2 separate regions of the Homo sapiens genome follow, and region 2 is linked to region 1. Evidence: fine-mapped expression QTL. A gene starts in region 1. The other region holds a variant in brackets. All regions are shown on one strand. Distances are between the middles of the regions.

Region 1 (9,706 bases):
CTTGGAGGACTCCCGAGGGCAGATGAGACCAACTTGGCCTAAAAATGGGTGAAATAATAATTGCCAGAATTGTAAGAAAACGTTGACACCATAATGATAGATTTTAGCACATTTCACTAAAAAAGTTGAGCAAATTCTAGACCAAGCAGAAAAATGCATACAGACAAAGGTCTGGTCAATGTCAGAGACGTCCTCTGCACTCATTGTGGAGACCCAAAGTTGGACCCCCATGTCCCCATACCCTGACTCAGAAGGGCGAGGGCTGGAGGGAGCTGCAGGGGTGTTGGGGAGGCAACTCTGTACTACCAGGACCTCAGGGAAGAGGGTTGCTGTGGCTGGGGGACCCGGGGAGCCCTCCATCCCTGTGAGGCAAGCAGCTGGGGAGGTGGAGGACCGCACCGTGACCGTGCACCGGAGAGCGCCGCTCCCACCCCGCCCACTTCAGGAACAGAACAGCTCCGGGAGGGCCAGAACTCCACTGCTGGCTCCCCATATTCCCCATGGCTCCCTGTGGCTGCAGGATCTTGGAACCCTTCTCTCTGCCTTTCTTTTGAGCCTGAAATATTTGGATGGGGACACATAAAGTCCCTGATGGGTTCCTCTCCACTCCCAACTTCAAACGAGGCCAGAACTCCTTTCTTTAAAGACACGCAAAGGAAAAAAATCACAAAACTAGTATCCACTGGGGTTTGAGAAAATAAAGTCGATCTGAGGAATCAGATCTGAGAGTCTCTAATTAAACAGAGAAGTGAGCTACTGACACACACCAGAAGATGGTAACTAGTGTTCTCAAGGTGAGGACAGGGCAGGGGTCTTGAGGTGGACAATCCAAAATGAAAACTCAGGCCGAACGAGGCCACCGTGGGGACAGGAGCAGCAGACGAGATGCGGCAGATCCTGAGATTAGCTGAGTAGGAGTAAGACCTGAAATTCTCCTGGGACCTTGGGGAAAACCGAGATGACAAGGAGAAATTCAAGATTGAAGCCAGGAGGACAGGTCCAGGGGATCAGTATTGGGATGCTGAGAATTCCAGGACAAAAGAACAGAGAAGAGGGAGAAGGAGAAGAGATGTTTTTTTTACAGTGGAAGGAACCTCTGTAAACAGAAGGTAGATTTGATTCTGCAAGTAGGGAGGGTTTGCCGGGGTAGGTAAAAATAATGAAAGGGGCCGACACGCCCACATTTTGGTGACATTTTTGAATTTCAAAAACAAGGAGGCCTCTGGCTGCCACTCTGGAAAGAGCACTGACAAGAAAAACACAAAGAACCCAGGGAATCCGCACATTTCTTGAACCCATCTGAACTCAAGGTCAGAGGCAAACAAGGAGCCTGGAATCGAATGAAAGCCAGGCCCCTCCAGGAGAGATGCCATGAGCGGCCCCACCCATCAAACCAGCGGCATGGAGTTCACCAAAGCTGGTAACATGTTGCTCGGACCCACGTGGCAGGCAGAGCCCTCAGAGGGCCCTGTGAGCTCTGGCCCTGACGTTATCCTGTGATTACGTTGGATTCATGGCCAGGGGACTTTGTGGATGTGAAGAGTTGACTCTGAGTTAAGCAAAGGGTGACCACCCAGGTGGGTCTCACCCACTCACGCACACCCTCGGGTGTCGGCAGAAGGGAGCCATGAGGTGTGAGGCACGTGGAGATGGGGGGCGTGGGGTGCAGGTGCTGCTGCCACACTGTGGCACAGCCAAGGAAGCCCCTGGCTAGGAGTGGGGAGCCCTTGGCCGACCGCACAGAAATGAGGCTCAGCCCGACAACGCAAAGAGCTGGACTCGCCACGCTGGGATGAGCCCGGATGCCCCCAGAAGCACCTGGATGAACCCAGAGGAGGACTCTTCCCCGTGGCCTCGGGTGGCCCAGCCTACCCCATGACTGTGAGACCCAGAGGGGAGACGCCAGTCACACCATGCCAGGCTTCTCACCTATGGGACTGGGGGCTCAAAAGTGGGGTTAAGTCATCAGTAATTTGTTGCAAAAAGTAGTGCACCAGGTGTGGGCTGCTGTGGGTAGAGAGCCCTGGGGTCCACAGACACCAAGAGAAGTTCAACCTACAGGCAGGAGAGCCCAGAGCCCCCCTGGGGAGCAGGTTTGGAAGAGGGGATTGTCCAGAGCAGGAAATTCTAAGGAGCAAAAGTCTTAGCTCCTAGGGCGCAGGTGGAAGCAGTGCAGCTGGGAAGGGAAGGGACAAGACCCTCGGCCCCTGGAGGGGGCAGGGCGCTGTCCTGGCCCAGCCATAAGATGCCCTGGATGCAAATGCTAAGGGAAAAGAGGATGAATAAATCATCCCTGCCATGCAAGACAGGACAGGCAGGAAAGACACACGGAAAGGAGAAAGTGTCCTATGAACAACCTAAGGAAAAACAGAGCATGGGTTACCACAAAACTTCTACATGGGACAAATTCCCCCAGAAGAGGCAGAGACTCTAAGGTGAGATTGAAACCAGAGCCAGGCTGATGAAATGAAGGCTGAAACCACAAACACCAAAAAAGCAGAGGCCAAGAGGAAGACAAACAGCAGTCACAGGACATGCAGGCCACTCAGGAAAAGTTAACCGAGAAACTTCAAATTCGAAGAGTCAAGAAATCTAGAAGTCAAATACCCTTGGAAATAAAAGGAGACATTGACAAAAAGAATTGTAGTGGGAAAATTCAACACATCATCCTTAGTTTTGATAAATTCAGGAACTGGATCAAATGTGGCCTATTTGAATAATGCATTTGTAAAGGTTGATTTAAAAGGTGTATTTCAGAACTGGGCACGGTGGCTCACACCTGTAATCCCAGCACTTTGGGAAGCTGAGGCAGGCAGATCATTTAAGGTCAGGAGTTCAAGACCAGTCTGGCCAACATGGTGTGAAACCTGTCTCTACTAAAAATACAAAAAAATTAGGTGTATTGGCGGGTGCCTGTAATCCCGACTACTTGGGAAGCTGAGGCAGGAGAATCACTTGAACCTGGGAGGCGGAGGTTGCTGTGAGCCAAGATGGTGCCACTGCACTCCAGCCTGGGTGACAGAATGAGACTCCATCTCAAAAAATAAAATAAAATAGAAGGTCTCTTTCAAAATGTGTAACCTGTGAGCAGAGCACGTTATTTCTGCATGCATGTGGGAGACATACATGTGACTATACACATAAAATGAAACTTGGCCCAACTCAGCCCGCTCCAGGTCCCCTGACTTCTCAGGTGCCCCCATCTCCTGGGCATCTCACAAGTCCTGACCCCATCCCTGGCCAGGCCGCCTGGGTCTTTCCACAGACGTCTCTAGTCTTACTGCCCCAGCAGCTGTCACCAGAAGGGTCTTTCCAAAACAGAAATTTCCAAACTGCTGGCTAATGAGGACCTTGCTCTCTCTGCAGCCTGGCCTCTGCTCTCTGCCCCCTCCCCTCTCCCCTGCAGAAGCCACCTCCTCAGAGGCTCAGGGCCTACTGGGAACTCAGAGCCTGCCTGCTAGTCTGAGTGCTGACAGCCCTCTGGTGGCCTCTGAGGGCCACCAGGCTCCGGGGCTGAGCCCCGCGTGGAACAGCACAGGCCTGGCCGGCTGCCCTTGGGGCCTTTCTGCCAACCTGCAAGGCCGTCCCTCCTGATGGCTCACCCAGGCCTCCCTCATTGGAGGGACACTTGGAGAGGAGTGGCTCCCCGGTCTCTGTGCCCTGTCTCCTCTGCACTGTGCTGGCCCCCTCTTTCCAGAATGGGTTGAGGGACGCCTGGGGGCAGTTGCCCTGGGGAGCCTCAGCCAGGCACGCTGTTCTCTGGCCCCTGGGGCCTGCAAGGGAGCTCTCTGGAGCGGAACAGTTGTCCCCTGGCCCAGTCCTGACAAGAGGATCTCAGGACACCCCGGGGGCTGCTTGGACCTGTGGGGCTGGGCTGGCTGGGCCTGGGGCTCCCCACCAGCACTGAGGACCAAGGCCTGGGCCAGGCCTCCATCCACCACTGCCTGGCCGTTCCATTTCCAGGCCCAGGCTCCTCACCTGAAAACCTCAGACCCAGCGGGCACCTCCCCAGCACAAAGCCTGGCATGTAGGGACACTGACTTCAGCCCTTCCTGAGAGGCCCCTTCTGTGTCTGAGCCACATGGAATGAAAAGTGGTCTTGGAGCAGGACAGTGTGACCCTATAAAGAGCCCCAAGGCTGGGCCAGGGCCGCCCCATGCCTGCCGCTGTGGCCTCAGCAAGAAGAAAGGGCCTAGACTTGGGGCTCTGCCCCCCACTCGCTGTGCCCCCAGGGCCAAGTCCTCAGTTTCCCCAACCTGTAAAACAAGGGCTAGAACCACCGTAAGGACAGCTCTGCTAAGGACGACCCCAGTCCCGATGACCCCAAAGCCGCCTGCCACAGCCCAGCCTGCACCTCTGCCCCAGGGCCCCACCGGGCTGGCTCCAGCCCCGAACACCCACAGAAGCCCTTGCAGACCCCTCTCTCCCACCTCCCGGCCCTGTGGCCTCCCTGCAGGGTGTGAGGGTGACCGAGAGGCCTTGTTCTTGTGCCCCACCTGGGACCCACCCTGCCGCCTGCCCCACCTGCAGCCGCCGCTTCTCCTGGCCTGCCGCACGCACGCTCGCCAGGTGCTCCAACTCCAGCCTGCGGAGCGCCTCCTTCTGCAGGGCACGTGCTGCCCGGGCGCTGCTCAGCGCGCCCTCCACCCGGCGCTGGCCTGTGGGGCAAGCAGGGTGGCTTGAGGGGCCCCCATGCCCCTCCCAGGTCACAGGCAGGCAATGCAGGGCTCTGTGGACTTGAGTGACTGGCTCCCACGTGGAGGTGGGGGTCCATCCTTGCAGCTCAAGGGTCCTGGGGCTGCCCCAGGGTCCCGGCTTCCCACCCATCCTTCCCTCCTGCCTCTTTCCTTTAATTGAGGGGCAATAAGCAGAGAAACTCGTGAGTGTGAGGCAGTGGGGGGCAGAAGGAAGGGGCCTCTCTGAGGGGGTGACGAGGGGCAGGGCCTGCCCGGGGAGAGCCGTGTGGCTGTCTGGGGGAGAGGGTGCCAGGCAGAGGGCACAGCCAGGGCAAAGGCCCCCAGTGGGAACTGCAGGAGGCCAGGGTGGGGCAGGGGGGCAGAGGATGCTGGGGGCCGGATCGGGAGGGCCCTGATGGGCCTGTGGACGTCACTCCTCTGTGCTGGGGAAGTCGCTGCTGAGAACTCCGATGCCAAGCGCTGACCCAGCCTCGCCAGGCCTGGTGGTTTGGGTGTTGCCCCCAGGCTCCCTTCCCACCGAGCTGCCCCAGGGACTGAAAGCTTATAGCCGGCAGCAGTGGGGACATGGTGGTGCCACTCTCACAGCCACTCCCAGGGTGGGCGGGGCAGGGCAAGGGAGGTCACCTTCTTCCGCCTCAGCCAGGGCTTTCTGCAGCTGCCCCACGCGGCTCTGGGCCCGGGCACACCTGCACTCTGCCTCGCTCAGCCGGCTGCTCAGGGTCGCCATCTGGATGCGGGAGTCATCCTGGGCAGAAGGACTGAGGTCAGCGGGGGCAGTCCAATGGGCGGGTGGAGGGCCAAGGTGTCTGCTAGAGGGTCGGGGCCAGCTGGGGCCGCTCACGGTCTGGCCTGCAGGTGTGCAGGGCAGGGCAGTGGGTGGTGTGGGCCGTGGGCTCGGGGAAGGTGCGGGGAAGGTGATCACACTGGGAAGCTGCGCTGACCTGCAGGCCTGGGGAGGTGGAGGCGCCCAGTGAGACTCGGCCTAAAGGGTCCAGGTTTCAAGCACAGGTGTGGTGTGGGAGAGCTGGCAGGTGGCGGCCCACAGCCTGTGGTCAGGGGGACCGGTAGGGGCTGCCCCTGGCGGGACTTGGGGCTGAGTGCAGACGGGACCCTGCCCCCTGGGGCTGGCAGCGGTGGGAGGGTGGGCCCGAAGGGAAGGAGTGTGCACAGAGGACCCTGGCCAGGGCTCAGGGCCTGCCTCTGTCTTTCCCACAGTCCTGCCCACTGGAGTCATCCAGCGAGGTGGGAGGGGGCCGCTCACGGGTGGTTCTGTGGGAGCCCTGAAGCCAGGAGCAGCCACTGGGGAGCTTGGCCCCACCGGAGGGGTCTTTGGGAGCATTGAGGGGAGCTTGCTGGCTCTGTCCTGCAGTTGCCCAGCCCCGGCAGCTCTTCAGGGGTGGCATGAGTTGCAGAATGCCCTACCCTGGGCCCTGGTGGGTGTCACAGCAGGGCCTGGCTCCAGGGGCTTTTCAGCCTGGTATAAGGAAGGGGGCGGCCTCCAGCCACCCAAGGCACTTGGGCTTGGGGGCCATGGTGGTGCTGGTGTTTATCACAACAAACAGGACGGCCTGGACACTGACCCTCAGACCCAGGGACGCGCGGATGGATGGACAGCAGGTGTTCTTCCCAGAGACCCCCGGGGGGTGCCGCCGTGGGCGGGAGGACCCCAGCCCCCATTACCCGCTCCCGCTGGGCTTCCCGGAGCTTCTGCACAAAGTCCCGCAGGATGTCCTGCACGGTGGCCACATCCATGAGCTCTGAGCTGCGGCCTCCGGGTGTGGGCGAGGGCCATCGGAGGGGCGAGTGGGGCCTGGCTGGGGGGCTGGTACCCTGTTGCCCAGGGAGAGCCTGGGAGCTGTCGGAGCCTGCGGGAGGTGACAGCGGAGGGGTCGTGGACAGGAACACAGTGACAGATACACGCCCTTCCCCTTTCCTCTCTGCTGCCCCAGCCATGGGAGGTTGGGGAGACGGCCACAGGTTCCTACAATTGCCTGTCCGAGTCCCTCACTGTGTGAGTTGTGAGGCCTGAAAGAGAGGTGCCAGGCCAGGGACTGAGCTGGGAGAGGGGCCCGCCTGCCTCCACTGAGGACTCTGACCTTTGGTGGGGGAACCAGGCTGCTCCGGGGAGGCCCACGGGCTCTGTCTCTGGAGCCCCAGGCCACGGCGGAGCGTGGAGCACAGCCGGCCCAGCTGGGCCTCCGCATCCTGCCTTGCACCCTCAGCCTGGGCCAGCTCCTGCTCCAGGCTGTGGATTCGGTGACAGGCCTGGTCCAGGCGAGCCTGGAGAGCATCAGCCACACCACTGGCTTCCTGCAGCTTCCTGGTGACACTGTGCAGCTCTGCTCGGAGGGTCTGCTCAGCCCCCCGGCTCTCACGGAGGTGCTCCTGGAGCCGCTGTCCATGGGCCTCCCCTGCGGCCTCCACCTCTGCCAACTTCCTCTGCAATCCCAGGACCTGTAGGAGGGATGTTGGGGTGCGCCCGTGGGAGACAGTGAGGAAGTGGGGTGGGCCTCCTCCCTCTGCTCCCCGACGCCCAGCTCCTTCCCTTCTGACCACAGGCAGCCCTCCCACCTCCTTCCGGGCACCCTCGTGCTTGGCCTCTGCCTTGGCTGCCTGCCTCCGCAGCTCCAGCACCTCCTGCGAGCACTGCGCCTGCAGCTCATGGGCCTCTCCACTCCTCCTCTGGTTCTCGGCCTTCAGTGTCCTCACCTGGGAGCGTGGGGCCGCACGGACAGGGTCACTGGTCTCTGTGCTGGAACCCAGGCAGCCTCCCTGCCTCCTGCCTCCGCTCACACGTCCCTTGAGGGCAGCTGGCCACACTTAGGGAGGCTTGGGCTAAGGTGCCCCAAAGGACCTTGCCCTGGGAGTTGTCACCCTCAGCCACTCTGTAGACACCTACCTGGGACCTCCTCGGAACCTCCTTGGAGGACCTGGGACAAGGAGGAGGCTCAGGTGGGGCGGGGTGGGCACTGATTAGGGAGTGTGGGCAGTGGCTGGGGTGCATTGGACCCAACTGCCCCGAGGCCGCCATTACAGGAGGGAGCCAGGCCTTGGGGGGACCCGGCTTGCCAGCACCCTGCCCTGCAGAGGCCAGGCCTCCCCTCTAGCCTGCCTGAGTTCCCGAGCGCCACCGGAAGGTGTTGCATGTAGGATACTTCCGTGTGCTGCTGTGCATGCCGGAAGGTGTTGCATGTAGGATACTTCCGTGTGCTGCTGGGCATGGTTCCCTTCCTCCTCGCTAAAGCATTCCTGGTTTTGCCCTCTCCAGTCTTGTCATCTGTGCCCCATGGGGACAGACCCAACCAGGGACCCTGTGAGCCTGAGCAGGGCGTGGCCCAAAGTCTGGGGACAGAGTGGTTCAAAGGCGGCAGCAAGGCCAGGGCTGGGGGCTCCCCTGGGAGGAGCCGGGACCCACCAGGCGGGAGGGTGCCTGGTTGGATGTTGACCCCTCCCTGCCGCCCTACCTGTCTGTGGAGTTCCCGGAGCTCCTGACGGGCGTCCCCCCCTGCCTGCTCCAGCTCCCACAGGTGGGCCCGCAGTGCACTGGCCTCCTGCTGCAACGCCGCCTGGGCCTCCTCCAGGATGAGCAGCTTCTGCTCCTTCTCCTCCTTGGACCGCTTAAAACTGACGAGGGTGCCACAGGCTGGGGCCCCCGCACCTCCTGGTGGGGCCAGCACAGCTGCCCAGCAGGTCTCTGCCTCCCCTAGTGAGGCACTGGCCCCAGTCTTGACTCTGCACAGTGTCCTCAAACTCAGCCTCTGCAGGGTTCCCTGTCACCTTACAGACATATGTCCACCCAGGTCCCGGTGCCGGCCGCATGGCCCCTGTCCACTATCCACCTCTTCAGCCCCTCCTCACCTCATCCCTCCCTGTCTCCCCCTCTCTGTCACACTCCCGGACGCTCAACATCCAGCCTAGCCTGGTACCTCTGCCACCTGCTGTGAGGGCTGTGCCATCCTGCCCAGCTGCCCCACAGGGGCCTTTCTAGAGCCCCAGCCAGGCCGTTGGCCTCCCTCTGCTCCCCAGCTCTGCACCACCTCCTGGAGGCCACCTGTGACCTATCTTGCCTGCTGGATGGGAACTCCCTGTGGGCAGGGACAGGTGTGTCCATGTCCTCAGCCATCCCTCGCACTGGCCAGCATTGCAGACCTCTTGGACTGGGCAGCGGGAGGCCTGCTTGGCATGTCTACCCCACCATCAGTGGGGCCCAAGTCAACAGGACGCCCCTGCCTAGCCCCCTTGCCCCATCCTCCCTACGGCCTGGGTGGGCAGCAGGCTGCAGGGCACCCCCAGCTGCTCCTGGGTGGCCGCCATACCTGGCCTTCTCCTGTTCGGCCCTGCAGATGGTGGCCCGCAGCTCGCTGTTGAAAAGCAACAGTACGTCCTTCTCGCGGGCCTCGTCACTCAGCGCCCGGCGGGCCTCCTGGGCCTCCCTGTGCAGCCCCTCCCGGCTCTCCTCGACGCCCTGCAGCTCCTGGCGCAGTGCGGCCAGTCCCTCCTGGGCCACGGTCAGCTGTGCCCGCAGCCTCTCAGCCTGGGGAGGACCATTCAGCTCTAGAGGCCCGCTGGGGACCACTGCTCCAGGGATAGCCACAGGGGCCTGTGGCCTCTGACATGGTGTGGCAGGCACAGGTGCCCTGCCCAACTTGGTCCCCATGCGCTTTGCTCACCCCATGGAGCCACCAATCCCTAGTGCTGCGGAGGCTGCAGGGCGGCTTCCACGGGCTGAGGCAGGGCCAGCCTAAGAGCCCAGAAGACCCCACCTTGAGCCCCTGGGCCCGGCCCCACGCTGCGGCCTCTCTGGACCCCCAGGACGCTGACCACTGGTAAGCAAGGCCTACCTGGGATGCGGCTCAGCACACGTGTCTGCACTGTCACTGCCTGGGGCCCTTCCCACCTCCTGCCCCCGGCGTCTAGTCCTCTCCTTAGGTGACAGTGTGGTGCCCAGGCCGCTGCCTGTCCTAGTGTGGGCAGCAGCCTCAGCAGGCAGGCTGGGCCTGACCCTGGCA
Region 2 (9,706 bases), 67 kb after region 1:
GGAAGCAGTTTTGCCTGGAGACCTGGAGACGCCCTGGGTAAAACTGTCTACCTGAGCAACGGCACCTGGGAGGGGCTGGCCTTTCCCCCAGACACCCCCTCCCGCATTCGCTCCAGGGGGAGCCGTGTGCTTGCTGGACACACGGTGGGCAGAGGCAGCATGCAGAGCACTGGTCTTCCTTCATCTGGACTCATAAACTATGACTTTTGAAAAACATTTGTCAAAGAACGTAGTGGTCGTCGCAGGTGGTGGACTGAGACCTGGAGAGGGACGCTGCCTGCCTGAGGGGCAAAGGAATCTTGTCTTCCTGGCCTTGCACCTGTGAGTCCTTCTGGAGTCTGACTCCCGCTAGAGCCCTTCAGAGTCACCTGCCCATGGGTCCACCCTTGCCCTGGGAACCTGCACTGTTTCCCACCCTGTGGAATCGGAAAGGACCACCAGCCACCCTGTCCGAAGGGGAGAAGTCCCTGGTCAGCATGCGTGGTGGAGGGTCTGCAGAACTTGCCCACGGCTTCCCACCCCAGGGGCTGCCAGGGGCTGTCTGGATGCCAGGGCAGGGCAGCTTCCCATAGGTGGGGCAATGGGAGGGAAGCAGGGCCATGCCTGCCACCCCCAGGCCGGCTGTCCCTACAGACGCAGAGCTCTGTGGCTCGGAGTCTGGGCCTCCTGGGGCCTCAGATGAAGTCAGGTGCCTGGCAGGCAGCCATGCCAGCGTTTCCGCCCCATTCCACTCCCTCTGGGGCTCCTCATTCTGAGCTGGGACCTCCTTGAGCTGATGCTGGCAGGAGTCCCTCTGGGGAAGGGACAGCCGCAGAGGTGGGCCCTGCAGCAGGAGTGGCTGCCCTCCCATGAAAGGCTGCCCTGTTCAGGGGCCTCTGGGGATGGGTACATCTCCGAGTCTCTCAGAGACCCAGGTTCTTGGAGCCAGCCCAGGAGACCGGGAGGCAGCCTGCCCAGCAAGGCCACAGGGGCCCGGGCAGTGGAGGTGGATGCCAACTTGGGGGACCAGCATGTTTGTCCCTGGGGCTGCCGAGAGAGGGGCTGAGGGCCCAGGCCACCTCCTCAGAGGCGAAATTCAAGAAGCAGAGGCACCTGTACTCAAAAGGAGCCCTCCCAGAGAAACACCTGTGCTCTGTTCACCCCCACTCCTGAGGACAACCTCCAGGGTGGCCCTGCAGGGACAGGCCAGGCTCTCTGGCCAGACATGGCCCCATGGGCATCCGGGCTGGGCTTCACTGGACAGTCCCTGGGGTGCCAGGGGCCTGGTCAGTCCTTCCGAACCTCGTGCTTCTGGCCCAAGCATGACCTCTGGCTTCAGGTCCAGACTGAGGACACCCACTCCATGGGCTAGGCCCCTCCCTGAGCAGCCTCCAGATCCCCCAGGGACCCAAGACTGCCGGTCGCCCACCCTCAGAGTCCTGGGAGGCCCTGTGGCCATGGAGAGTCCTGCCCTCCATGCCTCAGCCTGAGTGGGGAGGGGCAGCGTTTCCTGCTGGGGCTCCGCTGAACTCCCCTGAGGTGGGTCAGGGCTTAGAGGGTGTGGCCCTGGCCTCTGGTGAGAGTTCCTGCTGGGGGCAGGGCGGGTGGAGTGAGGAAGGGGCATCCGTGTGGACCTGTGAACGGTGGGGAGTGGCTGGGAGGCTAGTGTGATCTCCCATGCGGGCCTCTTGGATAGGTGGAGATAAGACCTCATATGCCAGAAGCAAGTCCTGTGTCAGTCCTGACACAGATGCCCATGTTCAGGGGCGGCCCGGTGGCCTGAGTCGGGGTGTTGGAGAGACACCCTGACCTGAAGCCGTACATCCAGGCCAAAGGTGACGTGCACTGGGCCCAGCCAGGTGGAGACACCCCCTGTGGCCTCTGCAGGTGACGGCTCTCAGGAGGGCTGGTGGGCAGGGGCTCCCATCTGTGTTTAATTTTATTTTTATTTATTTATTTATTTTTGAGATGGAGTCTCGCTCTGTCTCCCAGACTGGAGTGCAGTGGCCCTATTTTGGCTCCCTGCAACCTCCCCCCACCAGGTTCAAGTGATTCTCCTGCTTCAGCCTCCAGAGTGGCTGGGATTAGAGGCACTCGCCACCATGCCCAGCTTATTTTTGTATTTTTAGTAGAGATGGGGTTTCACCATGTTGACCAGGCTGCTCTTGAACTCCTGACCTCAAGCAATCCTCCCGCCTTGGCCTCCCAAAGTGCTGGATTACAGGCGTGAGCCACTGCGCCCGGCCTGTCTGAGTTTTAGAAAGTTCCTTCTGGCTGTGGAGTTGCCCTGGACGAGACCAAACGTGAGGATGGGATTTTGTCGGTCCAGGTGGGCATCGCCTGGAGCCTCTGTGCCATCTGGGGTGGGCGTGGCCGCCTGCAGTTCAGCCTCCCCCGCCTGCGGCAGCTCCAAGTCCATGATTTTCCCAGATGTCCTCCCGTGCCCCTTTTCCTCAGTCACTGCAGGGTTTGCCCACGGAGGAGGGATTTCCTGGGAGAGTCCTGGTGAACCATGAAGGTTGGTCCCTCCTCTTGGTGGGGCCCTGACCCAAGGCAGGCCCTCCTTGCCGCCCACCTCCTCTTAGCCTTGGGGTCCTGGCTGCTCCACCGGACGCATCCTCGTTTCTTTTCCACTTCTCCCCCTTTGCTGCTTCTCCCCCTTAACCCTGCCCCCCTGTGTCTGTACAGGAAAGCCCACGCCTGCCGGCGGTGGCCCGGAGTCCCCCCAGGATGCCTTTCCAGGGCGCGAGGGCTGGCCCAGCCCCGTGCATGCCCCCCAAGGCCTCACTGCGGGGTGTCCATTATGGGGCTCCCAGACCAGGGCCATGGCTAGACTAGAAGAACCCACAGGGTAGGCCTTGGCCGGAGCCTGGCTGGGCCCCCCGGGGAACGCCCTGGGACAGTGGAGGATGGGATAGAGGGTCCTCCCTGAGTGCAGGCGTTCTGTGGGGTGGGCTCTCGGGAGGGCGGGGCTCGGGGGGCCCTGCCCAGTCCTGACCCACAGCCTGATGGGGGTTGAGCTCTTGTTCTCTGGACCTCACGCCTCCCTCCCTGGGACTGGGGAAAGTACTCGGCACCCATGGCCATTCTAGATGCGGTCCTCCTTGTCCTGCCCCACCTGCCTGGCTTTGGAGGCTGAGGAAGAACCCTCCTGGGCTCAGAGGAACACCTGTCTGTAGATACGCCATCACCGGTTTTGTCATTGTTCCCTTGAAACAGGAAACCTTGCTTATCCTTATCAAGGATAACGTTGTATCTCCTTATCAAGGAGATAAGGAGTTACAGCCTTATCTCCTTGGGGACAGTCCCTAATCCTGGCTGTGCTGGGCCCACATGGGGACACAGGAACCGATGATGAGCAGGCACAGACACTCTGGCCGCCAGGCACCCACACAGCCGGCCATGGGTGTCTTTTCCTGTCTAGCACCAGCAGGGGATGTGCCTCGGACAGAACCCAAAGAGGCTGTGACCCAGGTCAGCCCCGGGGAGCTATGGAGCCACTCCTCTTGAGCAGTCACTGGCTGTCCTCTCAGACAGTCTACTCTGCCAGGTGTGGACTTGGCTCTGAGGAGGAGACGCTGGCCCTGGGGGGTGCAGAGTCACTGAATGAGCTGAGACAGTGATGGAAGGCAGGAAAGATCCCAGTGTGATTACGGCAGGACGGGCAGCCCTGGAGGCTGTGAGGCTGGGACAGAGGGCGCCACATTCTGTCCACTGCCTACCCTCTCTGCAGAGCTGCCCTGCACATGAACTTTCTTCAGAGGGCATGGAAGTGCCACCCCATTCTGCACACAGCAGCCGAGTGGCACCGTCCCACCCCCATCTGTCGGGCGTGGACAGGAGGCCAGCTGAGGGCAGGGGTGGTGGCTGGTGAGGCAAGTGGTCTGATGCGGGAGAACAATGCATTTGGTGTGATTTTCAAGGTCTTTTCCACTCTCCTGAGAGGAGAGGCCAGCTGGATACATGTGCTGGGTTTTAGGGGGCATCCAGATGGTTGTGGGCGCAGGCAGGTCCTGAGAGGTTCTGTGGGGTGGGAGAGAAGACCTCGCTCTTCACCCACCCTGTGTTTATCCACGTGAGGGGTTGCCGGTGGATGCTGCCGTGGCAGGCCCTGGGGGACCTGGGTCCTGGGAGAGGCTGCAGGGCTGCCTGGGGACCCTGCTCTCTGGTGCTTTCTGTCAGCGTGGCAGAGGCTGAATACCACAGCACAGTGAAGAAAGGTGCCTGGGGAGGGACCTCCTGCCTGGGGACCAGAGGAGGCTTGGGGCTACTGGCCTGCCCAGGGATCCAAAGGTAAGAGCCCAAGCCATACAGAGCTTAGAAGAAAATGTAGGCAAAAGCTTCATGACACAGGATTTGGCAGTGATTTCTTGGATATGACATCAAATGCACAGACAATGAAAGAAAAAAATAGATAAATTGAACTGCATCAGAATTGAAAACTTGTGCATCAAAGGATGCTATGAAGAAAGTGAAAACCCACAGAATGGGAGAAAATATTTACCAATTTTATATCTGATAGGGGATTAGTATTGAGAATTTATAAAGAATTCTGGCCAAGCGTGGTGGCTCACACCTGTAATCCCAGCATGTTGGGAGGCCAAGGCAGGTAGGTCACCTGAGGTCAGGAGTTCGAGACCAGCCTGGCCAAACCCCGTCTCTACTAAAAAAATACAAAAAAATTAGCTGGACCTGGTGGCGTGCGCCTGTCATCCCAGCTACGCAGGAGGCTGAGGCATGAGAATTGCTTGAACCTGGGAGGCAGAGGTTACAGTGAGCCGAGATGGCGCCACTGCACTCCAGCCTGAGTGAGAGGGAGACTCTGTCTAAAAAAAAAAAAAAAAAAAAAAAAAAAGAATTCCTACAACCCAACAACAAGAAAACAAACAACACAATTAAAAATGAGCGAAAGACCTGAACAGACGTTTCTCCAAAGAAGATACACACATGGCCAACAGGCATGTGAAAGACACTCAGAGTCGCCTCATCCGAGAAATGCAAATCAAAAACCACAGCACGTCAGCACTTCACAACCCCTGGGATGGCTCTTACCCAGAACGCAGAGGATGAGTGCTGGGGAGGACGTGGAGAAGCCAGGGCTCTCGTGCACTGCAGTGGCGATGGTGTGACAAATCCTCAGAAAATTAAACAGAGTTCCCATATGATCCAGGAACCCACTTCTGGGCATATACCCCAAGGAACTGAAAGCAGAGACTCAAAGAGATATTCATACCCCTGTGTTTATAGCAGCATTTGCACTGCAGCCGATGGTGGAAGGAGCCCAGGTGTCTGTTCACAGATGATGTGGTCCGTCCCCACCGTGGAACATTACTCCGCCTTTAAAAGGAAGGAAATTCTCACACATGCCACAATCTGGAAGAACCCTGAGGATATAACGCCAGGTGAAATAAGCG[C/T]GTGCTAAGGCCGACGCTTACCTGAGGTCCCAGGAGCGCTCCAAGCCCTAGAAACGGAAGGTAGTATGGTGAGAGCCAGGGGCTGGGGGAGGGGCAGGAGTCAGTGTGGAGCAGGCACAGAGTCTCAGCCTGGAAGATGAGACGAGCTCTGGAGACTGACGGTGACAATGGCCGCGCCGCAACACGAATGTTCTTCATGGCGCTGAGCCACACACTTAAAGGTGGTCAAGATGGTAAAAGTCATGTTTATTTACCAAAATGTAAAAAACTAAAACGCCAACCACCAAGCAAAACAAAACCCACTGTGGCCAGCACCTGGGGAGACCTAGAGGGTTCCCCCACCCAGCTGCACGTTCCAGGGGAGCTGCAGCCTGTGGTCTGGCCCTGAGCTGGCGACTGGAGCCCCGGACAGACGGAGCTGGTGTCCCCGTGTGCCCAGGTGAGCGGTCTCCATGCCACCACTGAGAGAACACCCCCTTCCCCTCTCTCACACCGCCCTCCACCCACCCCTGTGCCGTCGAGCTTCCTTCTCCCCGGGACACCTGCCCAACCCCTGTCCTGGGCTGAGCCTGCCTCAGAAAAATGAGTCTGCTCCAATGTCTGCTCCCCACTGGATTTTCCAGGTGAGGGATCAGCCCGCCCTCAGCCCCATGCGGCTCAGCTCCTCAGGGTGGTCCAAAGTAGCCCCCAGCCCACGACCCCACCCACCCCGCCACACACCTGACTGTTCCCCAGCCATCTCCGTCCACCTGGGGCGTAACTGCCCATCACCTCCTTCCTCCCCCAGCCCCTGCTTCTTTGCTTTGCTCCTCCCAGCGGGGGTTCACCCCTACCGCTCAGTGCTGCTCCGAGGGGGGCTGCCAGGCTTAGCAGTGGAAATACAGGGATCCCTGTTCTATTCCAACTCCAGATCAACAACAATAAATGTTTGTGTGCCATGCAAATTAGATTTGAACTTCAGATTAATCCTAACAGCTGGGCGTCCTGCATTTTATTCGCCACCCTGATGCAGAGTTAGGCCATGAAGGGGAGGCCGCAGGGGCCGGGCATGTGCTCTGGGCGTCAGGACGCGGGTTTGTCCCTCGTGGTGAGCATTGCAGCTTTATCCTGAAGTCCAGACTGCTCATGTCAGCACGGAAGCTGCTTCCCCGCAGAGGCATCTGCGTAAAGGGCGTCTGGGCGCTGGGCGGCTGGATTCTGTCTGAGAGTCTGTCTCCTGTGGACTCCTCACTGTCCGTTGAGGACCTGGAGCCCAGGCGGGGCAGCGACTTGCTCAGGCCACACCATGGTGCCAAGCTCGTCTGCTCAAGTCTGACTTTTCTGCATCCGCACCTAAGCCTGAGCAGGCCTGGCAGGTACTCTGGGCACCTTGGCTGAATCGGACCACAGTGTCCTGGAGAGAAGGGCCCGATGCAGAAGAAGGGTCTCCTTCCCGGAGTACTGCAGGCATTGGTGGCTGGTGTAGACCTCGGCTGGAGACTCCTGTCTTGGTTGCTTTTGCATGCCTGAGGCTGCACAGAGCTGTGCCCACTGTTCCCAAACAGGTGGCTGGGCTAGGGGAGGGGCAGCAAGCACAGGGTCCCTGCAGGCAGCGCCCTGGCAGGGCTCCTGGCACGCGGTGGTATGGGGGCTGCTGACCGTAGCTGGCTGAGGAACAGCCACCTCCTAGTCCCCAGAACCTGTGAACAGGACCTTATAAAGCACAGGAGAGAGTGTGGCCTTACACGGTAACAGACTGAACCGTGGGTGAATTGAGATCTTACGTGGTAACAGACTGAACTGTGGGAGGCCTATGGGATGAGATCATCTGGGACGGCCTGGTGGCCCTAAATGGTCTCCCCAGTGTCCTTGTAAGAGAAGCAGAAAGAGATAGCACAGCTGCCCACAGGAGAGGGCCACGTGAGGACGGAGATGGAGAGACGTGGCCAAGGAACGCGGCTGCACTGGAGCTGGGAGAGGTGGGAGCTGCGCTTCCCTGGAGCCTCCGGAGGGAGCCCAGCCACACAACACCATGCTCTTGGACGTCTGCCTCCAGAGCTGTGAGAATTCACTTCTGTCATTTTACCTCCGCCGTGGTCTGTCGCACCCCTGGAAACATGCCCCTGCTGTGGGCTGCAGCTGCGTGGAGCCCCCACGGCTCAGGGTGTGCCCCTGTTGCTTCCCTAGGTTCAGCCCTGGGACTCTGTTCAGGCCGGAATGTCTGCTTCCCACCCCGCCTTTCCCAGCACATCCGGGACTTCCTGAAATACAGGATCCGTGCTCTGGCCCTGAGCTCTACTGAGAGACTGAATCAACACCCATCTGAGCATTTGCGGTTGCCACAGGTGCCAAGGAACCCCTTCTTGAGTTGCCAAGGCCCCAGGACACGTCTGGTTTCTCTGACCCTCCCCACCCTCACCACGCTACCCTCCTGGGGTCAGAGTTGGAGTCCTGGGTGCACTGTGGCTAGTGGCTGCCTGAAGGCCTCTGGAGCACTTGGCCCCTTTGTGGTCAAAGCTGCCCAGCCGTCCAGGGCGGGTGCCCGCATCCCCTCCGTCAGCAGCGGCTCTCCTCTCTCTCCCACAGGTCCAGCTTCCCGGGGACCTTTGCTTGTCCACAGTTCCCTGGTGTACTCCACATGCTCCTGTGTGCCTGGCATCGTGCCTGGCTCTAGGGTACACTGAGGAGTGTGACACCGTTCCAGCCATAGGGAGCTCACCATGTCATTCACCACCTGCCAGAAGGGCCAAGGGGCAAGGATGGGGCCTGGCCCATCAGAGGCTCTGACCTCAGCTGGGGCACAGGTGGAGAGAGTGGGGTCCCTTGGGGCAACCAGCTGGATTCAGCTCAGGAACTGGTGGGAGCCAGGAGGCCAGAGCCAGCGAAGGACAGGACAGGGTGTCAGCCAGGTGGAATCCCCTGCTGAAGAGAGGAAAGGGGGGACATGGTCTTGTGCTCTTGGTGTTGACAGCAGTGGAGAGGGGGCTTTAGGGGCAAAGGAGGATGCAAAGCCTGGGGGCCGCTCCCGAGGGAGAAGGGCCCTGCTCTGTGGCCACTGGAGGGAGCAGCTTGGGGGCTGAGAAGCCGAGCCCCTCCCATGGCTCAGAGCCCCTGGGCACTTTGGGTAGATTGGGGTGTGGTTGGGGGTCTCCTGGGCGAATTCAGAACACCGGGAGGTTCCTGGGAAGGAGGAGCTGGGACACTGAAGGTGTCATCAAATCACAGATGTTGAAGCCAAGGCCCAGAACAGGCAGATGAGCTCCCTGGGCCACTGCGGCCGAGGGTGAGGGGTAGGACCCCAGCTGCCCTGCAGCAGCGTCCACCTCCCCCAGGCCAGAGTCCTGTGGAGATGGAGGAGTGTGGCACACGGCTGTGTGTGGGGACCTAGGCAGGCCGTGGGTGAGGGCCCAGGACAAATGGGGCCTTGAACCTGAATGGCTGCCCTCGGGGAGGGGGACACGTGCTCTAAGCAACTCCAGGGAACAGGAGTGGGCCAGCTTGGAGGAGGGATATCTGTCTCTCGCTTGACCGTGGGCTACCCTGTGAGGTGGTGAGCTCCCTGTCCTGGGAGGCATGGAAGCAGAGACCCGCTCACTGGGCTGCAGCCCCTCATAGGGGCTTCCAAGCACCAGGAAGTGAGTGGCTGTTGCCCCCTGCCCCACCCCTCCTGGGATCCTGGTTCTGCCCACAGCTCTGACTCAGATGCAGCTCCCCGGGGGGTGAGAGGCCCACGTGCGGTGGCTACAGGGGCAGCATCTCCACGACGCCCCTGTGGGGCCATCTCCATGTTCACTGTTTGCAGACACCCCTGTGGCTGAGCACCCGATGCACTCGGCCAGCTGGCAGGGCCAAGGGTCGATGGGGCGGCTCCCTGCTGGTTGGGACTTGCACGGCCCTGAGCAGGGGAGGGGGGCGGGGCTGGCAGGGTACCTGGTGCAGGTGCTGGAGGGGGATGGTGGGGCGAGTTTCTCCACCTGGGTGAGGTGGAGCCACGGAGACTGCTTTTCTCCAGAACCAGACGAGCTCCAGCTCCCAGGCTAGGTGGGTGCCAGCTCCTCTCAGGTTGGAGGCTGGGCAGGGTGGGGTGGGGTGGGGTGGGGACTGGTAGCCCAGGGGTCCAGGGCCCAGATGGCTGGATGCACAGCTGGGGCAGAGGCAGGAGCCATGCCAGGACTGCAGCCTGTAAGCCGGGCACAGGTGTCTGAGGGGAACATTGCAGAGACGCAGCCTCCAGGTTCCCAGCCTTCCAGGCAGCCTTAGAGAGTCGGGGGCTCCCCCACAGCGGGGTCTGGGCAGCCACCGCCCTGCCTCCCCTTCCTCACTGAGCCACGGGG

Direction of the effects. Positions count from the first base shown, and alleles are read on the strand shown. Sizes are in standard deviations (SD) of each study's normalised expression.
For the expression in stomach of the gene that starts at base 5,336 in region 1, T is the high allele of the variant in region 2 and C is the other (small effect, 0.35 SD a copy in GTEx).

The links. PIP is the estimated chance that this variant, and not a neighbour inherited with it, causes the effect.
Region 2: its variant is the best candidate, but not a certain one, in a credible set for the expression of UICLM in stomach (GTEx, PIP 0.55).

Annotation. Positions count from the first base shown.
Region 1 is chr2:240,963,081-240,972,786 of GRCh38, reverse strand. It overlaps UICLM (up-regulated in colorectal cancer liver metastasis), which reads left to right and starts at 5,336. Exons shown (of 9, transcript NR_033841.1): 1 at 5,336-5,460; 2 at 8,611-8,798; 3 at 9,041-9,523. It overlaps CROCC2 (ciliary rootlet coiled-coil, rootletin family member 2), which reads right to left. Exons shown (of 32, transcript NM_001351305.2): 21 at 9,014-9,231; 22 at 8,162-8,321; 23 at 7,269-7,406; 24 at 6,794-7,151; 25 at 6,378-6,562; 26 at 5,322-5,442; 27 at 4,525-4,658. RefSeq lists an enhancer at 9,317-9,706.
Region 2 is chr2:240,896,516-240,906,221 of GRCh38, reverse strand. It overlaps a transcript of MAB21L4 not described here. Among named protein-coding and RNA genes, the nearest start is that of CROCC2, 5.0 kb to the left of the region's middle. RefSeq lists enhancers at 733-1,233, 3,045-3,544, 3,545-4,046, 8,895-9,530. The variant C/T (reference allele first, on the strand shown) is at 5,394.